Linked DNA regions of Homo sapiens: region 1 is reported to be linked to region 2. Evidence: microRNA targets listed by miRTarBase, many of them from high-throughput screens and not tested one by one. Region 2 holds a microRNA gene; the other region holds the end of a gene's coding sequence.

Region 1 (3,000 bases), not on the chromosome of region 2:
GCTAAGTACTCAGTATTTAAATGATGATCAAAAAACAGTGACAAAAATACAGCATGACATGGTTTCTCTGGGTCTTTTCCTTAGACACCTGAATCTGAATACTCTTAACCCTTAAGTATAGAGAACAACACAAGGTTCTTAGGAAAGAGATACACTAACAGCCCTGCAGTGTTTCACCATGGAGTGCAGGCCAGACTTTAAATTATTTTAAGAATAAGGTTTATTGTCTCTTCTTTCCTAATGGGGCTACACTTTAAGCCATGTATGCAGACTTAAGATGTATTACAAGCCTTTGATTTACTTGGTAAAGTTATGTGTATTCTCTTGGGGGGATAAGTAGTGAGAGCCATGAGTTCCTGTTGCTTTTGCAAAGGACTTTAATCATCATGTCATCTTTGTCTCTAGGATCCAAACCAAGCCGATGAAGAAGCAATGACACAGATCATCCGAGTGTCCTAACCCCACGCCATGTGATGGAGCTGATCAAGGTCATGTTTCTCACTGTTCCAGGAAATTGATCAACTCTTCCAATGGGACATTGATGATCACATTCTGCCCTTTACTACAGGACAGAAACCACTTAGTTTTTAATAAGTGGCTCAGTATTACAATTGCAGCGATGCCTGGCAAATTGAAGTTGCAAGCCTTTGTCTTACTCTTTCAGTCAGGACCTATTTCAGACTGTTGATGACATTGACATTTCATGGATTCGGATGATGCAAGGAGACACATGCCACCCCAGCAGTACACAAAGCACTTACCTTGACTGGTGAAGTCAGCCAGCCATCTCAGCAGGGAAGAACAACCTTCTCAACCAAAACTGCAATCAGGAAAGCAGCAGCCCACTCCTTCCCATGGAATCTAGACAGCATTTATCCCTCTGGTGGGGGAATCTCACACTGACTAACTGAATGGACGCTTTGTATTCAGAGATGGCTTCCAGGCAAGGAAGTTCTATCTTGTGATACGGAAACAATAAATTCCTGAGATACATTCTTCCAATCTGTGGTAATAATAAGAATTCCTCTCTGCCCAGATGGTAGGTTGATATTTCTGGACTCTAGCCAAGAAAAAGCTAATTCTGGGGATAGAATGATAAAAGACTCAAGCACTAAAAATATACATTGCCGAATCTCTTTTTCTAGCTTTGAAAAGTTGTGGCCTGCTTGTCCCTCTGTTGACTGGTCATCTGGACCATCGTACTTGCTGTGGCTACTTCTAAGACAATGTAGAGGGTTATTAAACCTTGAAACTGCCTTTCCTAAGTAGAGAACAAGACTATTCAACAACTTCTTTGCTGAAGCACTGAGGAGATTTGTAATACTCCTAAAGGAAGGGCCAAACTAGAGATTTTCAATCATAGACTTTGTGACAGCATTTGGGGAACTAAAAGATTCATGTGTTTCAGCCTAGTGGGAGAGAGTGGGGGAGAGGAAGAGAGAGAGAGAGCATGTATACCCGTATGTTATCATAGAGCACGATTCTCCAGTGGATGGATACCTGGAATGGATCATTAAGATGAAGAGAGTAATTCACATTTACTCTAGAACCTTTAACAAGCACTGAAAGGAAGAAGCCTGAGATTTGATCCTTGACAATTTCTGGAAAGCACTGGTCAGTCACACTGTCCTGGACAGAGTCCAAGTTACCCACTAAAGCTTGAGGTGGATGTTGGCTTCACTCCTGCAGCACAATGCTGGCCCTAGAAAGCGAGCATTTTCATTCTTCCCATGGCAGCTGATTCTTTGGTGCCAGTTTTCATGTTTTCTCCATAGGCCTTGTGCAGAAAGGTTTTCTCATTGCATCCATACTGTGAGAATAAACTGCAGACTGAAAGAAACATGCCTGCAGGGTCAGGAACTGGGCCACTGTTCCCAGAACGGGTTGTGCCTCAGAAATCTATTTCTCTTTTAGATGTTGAACCCTGAGAGAACTAAGATGATATTTCAGAAGAGTTGGCTGCCTTCTCTGGAAACAAGGAAAACCCAATAATTCCGAGGAACATTGGGGGTTAAATACCAAGAATAAAAATTGGTTCTTCTTTGACTTCAGCTTAACTGTATTAAGACAGAAATTAAGCCCTCTAAAAACACCACAAAGAGAGATGATTGTAATGATAGAAATAGAGGTACAGAGCTATGCAAAGGAAACAGGAAGTGAAATATTCCTAGTCCCAGGGATCTGGTAATCGCTCCTGGCTTCCAGATGTCAAAGGACTGATCCTTTGGTAAGCTCACTAGAAACTTCTAGCTCTACAAGAGTTTGGGATATTAATGTTATTCAGTAAGTCCCAAGTTTTTCAGAGAATAGATTACTAACAATGAGGAATTTATATTCCTTGGTTAATTTAGGAGTCTAAGATGCAGAGTTCAGAAAGAAATTACTCAGACCTAACTTTGAGTGCTTAAGCTGCCAACAGTTAGAAGATGCTATTTATTTGTGTCTGTAAGTTTGTACATAGTAATGCCAGCCTTGTTGCTGAATTTTTTATTTGGGGGGAGATGACTTTGAATTTTGTTTGAAATGCTTCAGTTGTCATTTTGTCATTGCATTTCAAATAGCTCATGACCCTTTTCTTGTGGTCACTTTGGCACACCATAGTAGCCCACAAAGTGGGGGCAGGGTATTGACATTTGGATTTTTTCTTTGATACTAGTTCTTTTATTCATTTTTATTTGTGACTGTAGTGATAACTTTACAGATGGAGAAAGAGTGAATGGATGAATGAATAATTGGTTTAATGCCTAGTTATGCAACTTGAGTGCTTTTTTTTTTTTTTGCAGGATAATTTTAAGTGTATATATTTTAACTGCACTGGTACATTGAACATGTCAGTGTCGATGCCACTGGACCAACAGAGCATTTTGTGGCTATAGGGTGCCTGATAATAATGTCTTGATTTTTCTTTGGGATTCAACTATATCGAAGGTTTTTCCCCCAGCAGTATGGGGGCGTACAGGTGATCGATCATTAATGTCATTGCAATTGTTATTTTTTAAA
Region 2 (3,503 bases):
CACTGAGACCCACAGTCACTAAGCACTAGGGCCACCCTGGCCCAGGAGAGTTGGAAGTGCCAAGGCAGGATCCAACCCGCTGACAGGTCCCTTTGCTATTTCAGGTGAAAAAGGACGGTTAGCTTTTGAGAAGATGGACAAGCTCTGCTCAGAACAAAGAGAAGTCTTTTGCCAGGAGGCAGATGTTGAAATCACAATATTTTAAAAAATCCTGGCTGATGAGCACAAATCTCACATCGTTTTTTTTGCTGCTGCCCAGCCTGGACATAGCCTGCACTCTGGGTAATGGTGCTGTGCACTCCTCCAGGAGTGTGAGCTGCCCAGAGCTCTACCTGAGACTCCGGCCATTGACCCAGCCCCAGGGCATGGGCTGGTCTTTTGTACAGAGGCAGAAAAAAGCAAGGCAAAGGTACAGCATTCCAGGGGCTGCACGGCCTCAACAGAGCGCTCAACTTCTGGCTGAGGGTCTGTGTGACCTTCCCCGAGATGCAGAGCTGAGCCAAACTAGGTGGCCACCTACAAAAGGGCCAAGGCCAGGCAAGTTGAGGCCCTAAATAAAAGGCTCCAAGGCAAGTGTGTAGAACTCCAGGCCTCGCTGCCGGTCAGCTGCTCGGCACTTCTGCGTCAAGAGGCACTGGGGATGCAGCAGGCTGGCAGGTGGCTGGCCCTGCTAATGCAAGACTGCTCAGGCCATTTCAGCAGCAGCCAGGTGTCACCTTGGTGAGCTGGGGAAGGTGGGAAGGCACAAAGCCAGGGTTTCTACAACCACACTCTCAGCCCGACTGACTTGCTGCGAGTGCTGGTGGAGCTCACAGACGGCGGCTGGTGGATGGTGGACTGTGAACCTCACTTTCCCTATGTTCAGCAGCACAAAGGGAAGAAGCCACCACATCAGCCCAGGAGCCCTGAGCAGCACAGGCAGTAGGGCCACTCACTTTGGCCATCCGCACCCAAATGCAATCAATCAACCCAGCTTCGGAAGCTACCCTAGGATCTCGTCAATAAACTGCTAAGAAGCCATCAACTGGCCTAAAGAAAGAGTTCACTGAAGAACGCAATTGCTTTAAAGAAAGAAAAATTAGTTTCCTATTTAAGTCTTAAAAAAAAGCAAACCATGTCCTGAGATGTCTGTGTTAATAGTGCAGAGAGAACCTAGGGTTTGAGGTTGCTGTAGCAATGGCATTGGAGAACTTTAACTTGAACATTCTCATCGATACTTCCTGGACATATTTTGTGTTTTTAACTTACTTAGTATTTATTTGCCTTGTTCATATGTTCAATTTTCTGAAATTTCAATTAAACTATTGGTGTTTCACTTTTTACCCAAAAGAGTAGACAGCAGTTGTTTCCCCAAATACCTGCCAGTGAGGAGGTCACTCCTGTGGTCTTGTGGTGCGCTGTGGGGACACTTGGAGGGTGGCCTCAGGCAGCAGCTCCGGTAAATGCAGTCTCCAGGCTTCTCTGCATGCTCTCGAAGGCTCCAGGCGTGCTCTCCCCTATATGGGCACTCTGTGGCACGGCCTTTGCCCTTTTGTCCCATCTGATTTCTGGCAAACCCTCTCTTTTTAAGCATCAGCAGTACCAGCCTAGAGCAGGGGTCCTCAACCCCCAGGCCACAGACCGGTACTGGTCTGAGGCCTGTTAGGAACTGGACTGCATGGCAGGAGGTGAGTGGCGAGCGACTGAGCATGACCACCTGAGCTCCATCTCCTGTTAGATCAGCTGCAGCATCAGGTTCTCTTAGGAGCGTGAACCCTATTGTGAACTGAATGTGTGCAAGAGATCAGGTTGCAAGCTCCTTATGAGAATCTGATGCCTGATGATCTGAGGTGGAAGTTTCTATCCCAAAACCATCCCTCACCACCCCCAGGCCTGTGAAAAAATTGTCTTCCATGGAACCGGTTCCTGGTGCCAGAAAAGGTTGGGGACCGCTGCCCTAGAGCATCCTCCCTCTTCTTGAAAGCTTAGATGCCCTTTTTTATACCTGAAATGGTGGAAGCCACACTGACTTCTGCAGCCCCAGGCCCCTGTGGGTCCACATGACCACAGCCTGTCCTCTTCCCAGTCTCATGAGCCTGGGCCTGCAGCCAGCTTTGAAACAGTCGAGGAAACTTCGAGGGTACTGGGGAACTCTTCGTACTATTTTGGCAACATTTTGCAAGTCCAAAATTACTTCAAAAAGTCAAAAAAATCACTTTGGGGGGAATTTACATTGTTTAATTTTGTACACAAATGAAAAACTATACTAATCTGTCTTATTTCTAAGTCAATTCTATATCAAGTGGACTTTACGTACTGAGATGTGGTAACCATTGTGTCTTACAGGTAATTGGGTAAGGGATATGGTTTTGAGATTACAACTCAAAACACTGTTCTTCAAACAACACTGGTAAGTTTGTTAAGTTATCTGAGGGCCCTACACAGGCAAAGCGTCAATTTGGGAAGGAAATGGGCTGAGGCCTAAGGTGTTCAACAAGCTCACAGTCAAGGAAAGCGCTCCAGCCTGAGGGTGCTGGCAATGCAGGGATGCTGAGGTTAATTCTTAGAAGTGGAAAACTCTAACCCCAGCTGATTGACAACATCTGTTTCACATCAGCAGGGATAGAAAGAAACAGGAGTTACTCATCCTGGTTTAGCTCTATTAAGCAAAGAAAAAAATGGGAAGCACCCCAAATTCATGTTCTTTAGAAAAAAATTTTATTGTTGCAGCTAAAATGCAAACCCATCATGAATATGGCAAGTTGGAAAACTGTACAGTCTGACAGTTCTGTGAGGTCACAGAAGACCCTGAGACACTCCCCCCCACCCACCCGGTCATGCAGCCACGTATCCACACACACCTGAAAAGGTATTATACCAAAACACCTTGCTTTTTTTGTTTTTATTTTTGTAAAAATGGTTTATTCCATGGCCATTGTAAAAAATAATGACCTGATGAGTAAATATTGGCTTAAGGCATATAGCAGAGCAGCTCGCTACCTCTCTAACATAATGTGTAACAAGGTGGAGAGCCAGCTGCTCTCCAAGGATAGGAGGTTAAACCAGTACGTCCATTTTGAAATGCTACTATATATACACACCCAAACTACTACATACATATACAGGACTTAAAAACAACAAGCCCAGCTCAGAATGCTTACAGCCTGGCACCTAAGCCTTATCCACACCTCACCATAGCTCTGCAGGGTGACACCTCGAATGTTCCCACCACAGAATTTCTCTGTACTGGCTTCTACCACGAGAAAGGCAAAATGTGAAAATGCTGGCAAGAGAGTAGCTCGGGAGCTACAGCTGCCGTGTTTTTCATGTTAAAAAGCCACTTAATGTGGAGGTCTTCAGTTCCCTTTGCAGGAAGAGTCGTGAGCACCATCAGGCCCCACAGGGTTTGAGGGTGGGGCAGACGCGCCTCTCTCGGCAAGGTGAACCGGGACAGAGACGGCGGCAGGCTGCCTAAAGGACCGTCACCCAGGCTGTTTCAAGAAGTGTGGTTTCCAGCAGGTGCC

What was found. The annotated mature microRNA hsa-miR-645 reads UCUAGGCUGGUACUGCUGA and lies in region 2 at 1,573-1,591, opposite strand. An mRNA with a match to its seed (bases 2 to 7 or 8) in the 3' UTR can be bound and repressed. Matches are read on the target gene's strand: a 7mer-m8 pairs with bases 2 to 8, a 7mer-A1 pairs with bases 2 to 7 and ends in A, and an 8mer does both.
Region 1: the mRNA of NFYA is a reported target of hsa-miR-645. Seed matches in the 3' UTR shown: 7mer-m8 at 1,407-1,413.

What each region holds. Positions count from the first base shown.
Region 1 is chr6:41,096,952-41,099,951 of GRCh38, forward strand. It overlaps NFYA (nuclear transcription factor Y subunit alpha), which reads left to right. Exons shown (of 10, transcript NM_002505.5): 10 at 406-3,000. The coding sequence ends at 459. It also overlaps a transcript of OARD1 not described here. Among named protein-coding and RNA genes, the nearest start is that of NFYA, 25 kb to the left of the region's middle.
Region 2 is chr20:50,583,934-50,587,436 of GRCh38, reverse strand. MIR645 (microRNA 645) reads right to left here and starts at 1,651; the gene lies at 1,558-1,651. It overlaps PTPN1 (protein tyrosine phosphatase non-receptor type 1), which reads right to left. Exons shown (of 10, transcript NM_002827.4): 10 at 2,196-3,503. RIPOR3 (RIPOR family member 3) reads left to right here. Exons shown (of 22, transcript NM_001290268.2): 22 at 105-1,329. The coding sequence ends at 205. RefSeq lists enhancers at 90-602, 603-1,116.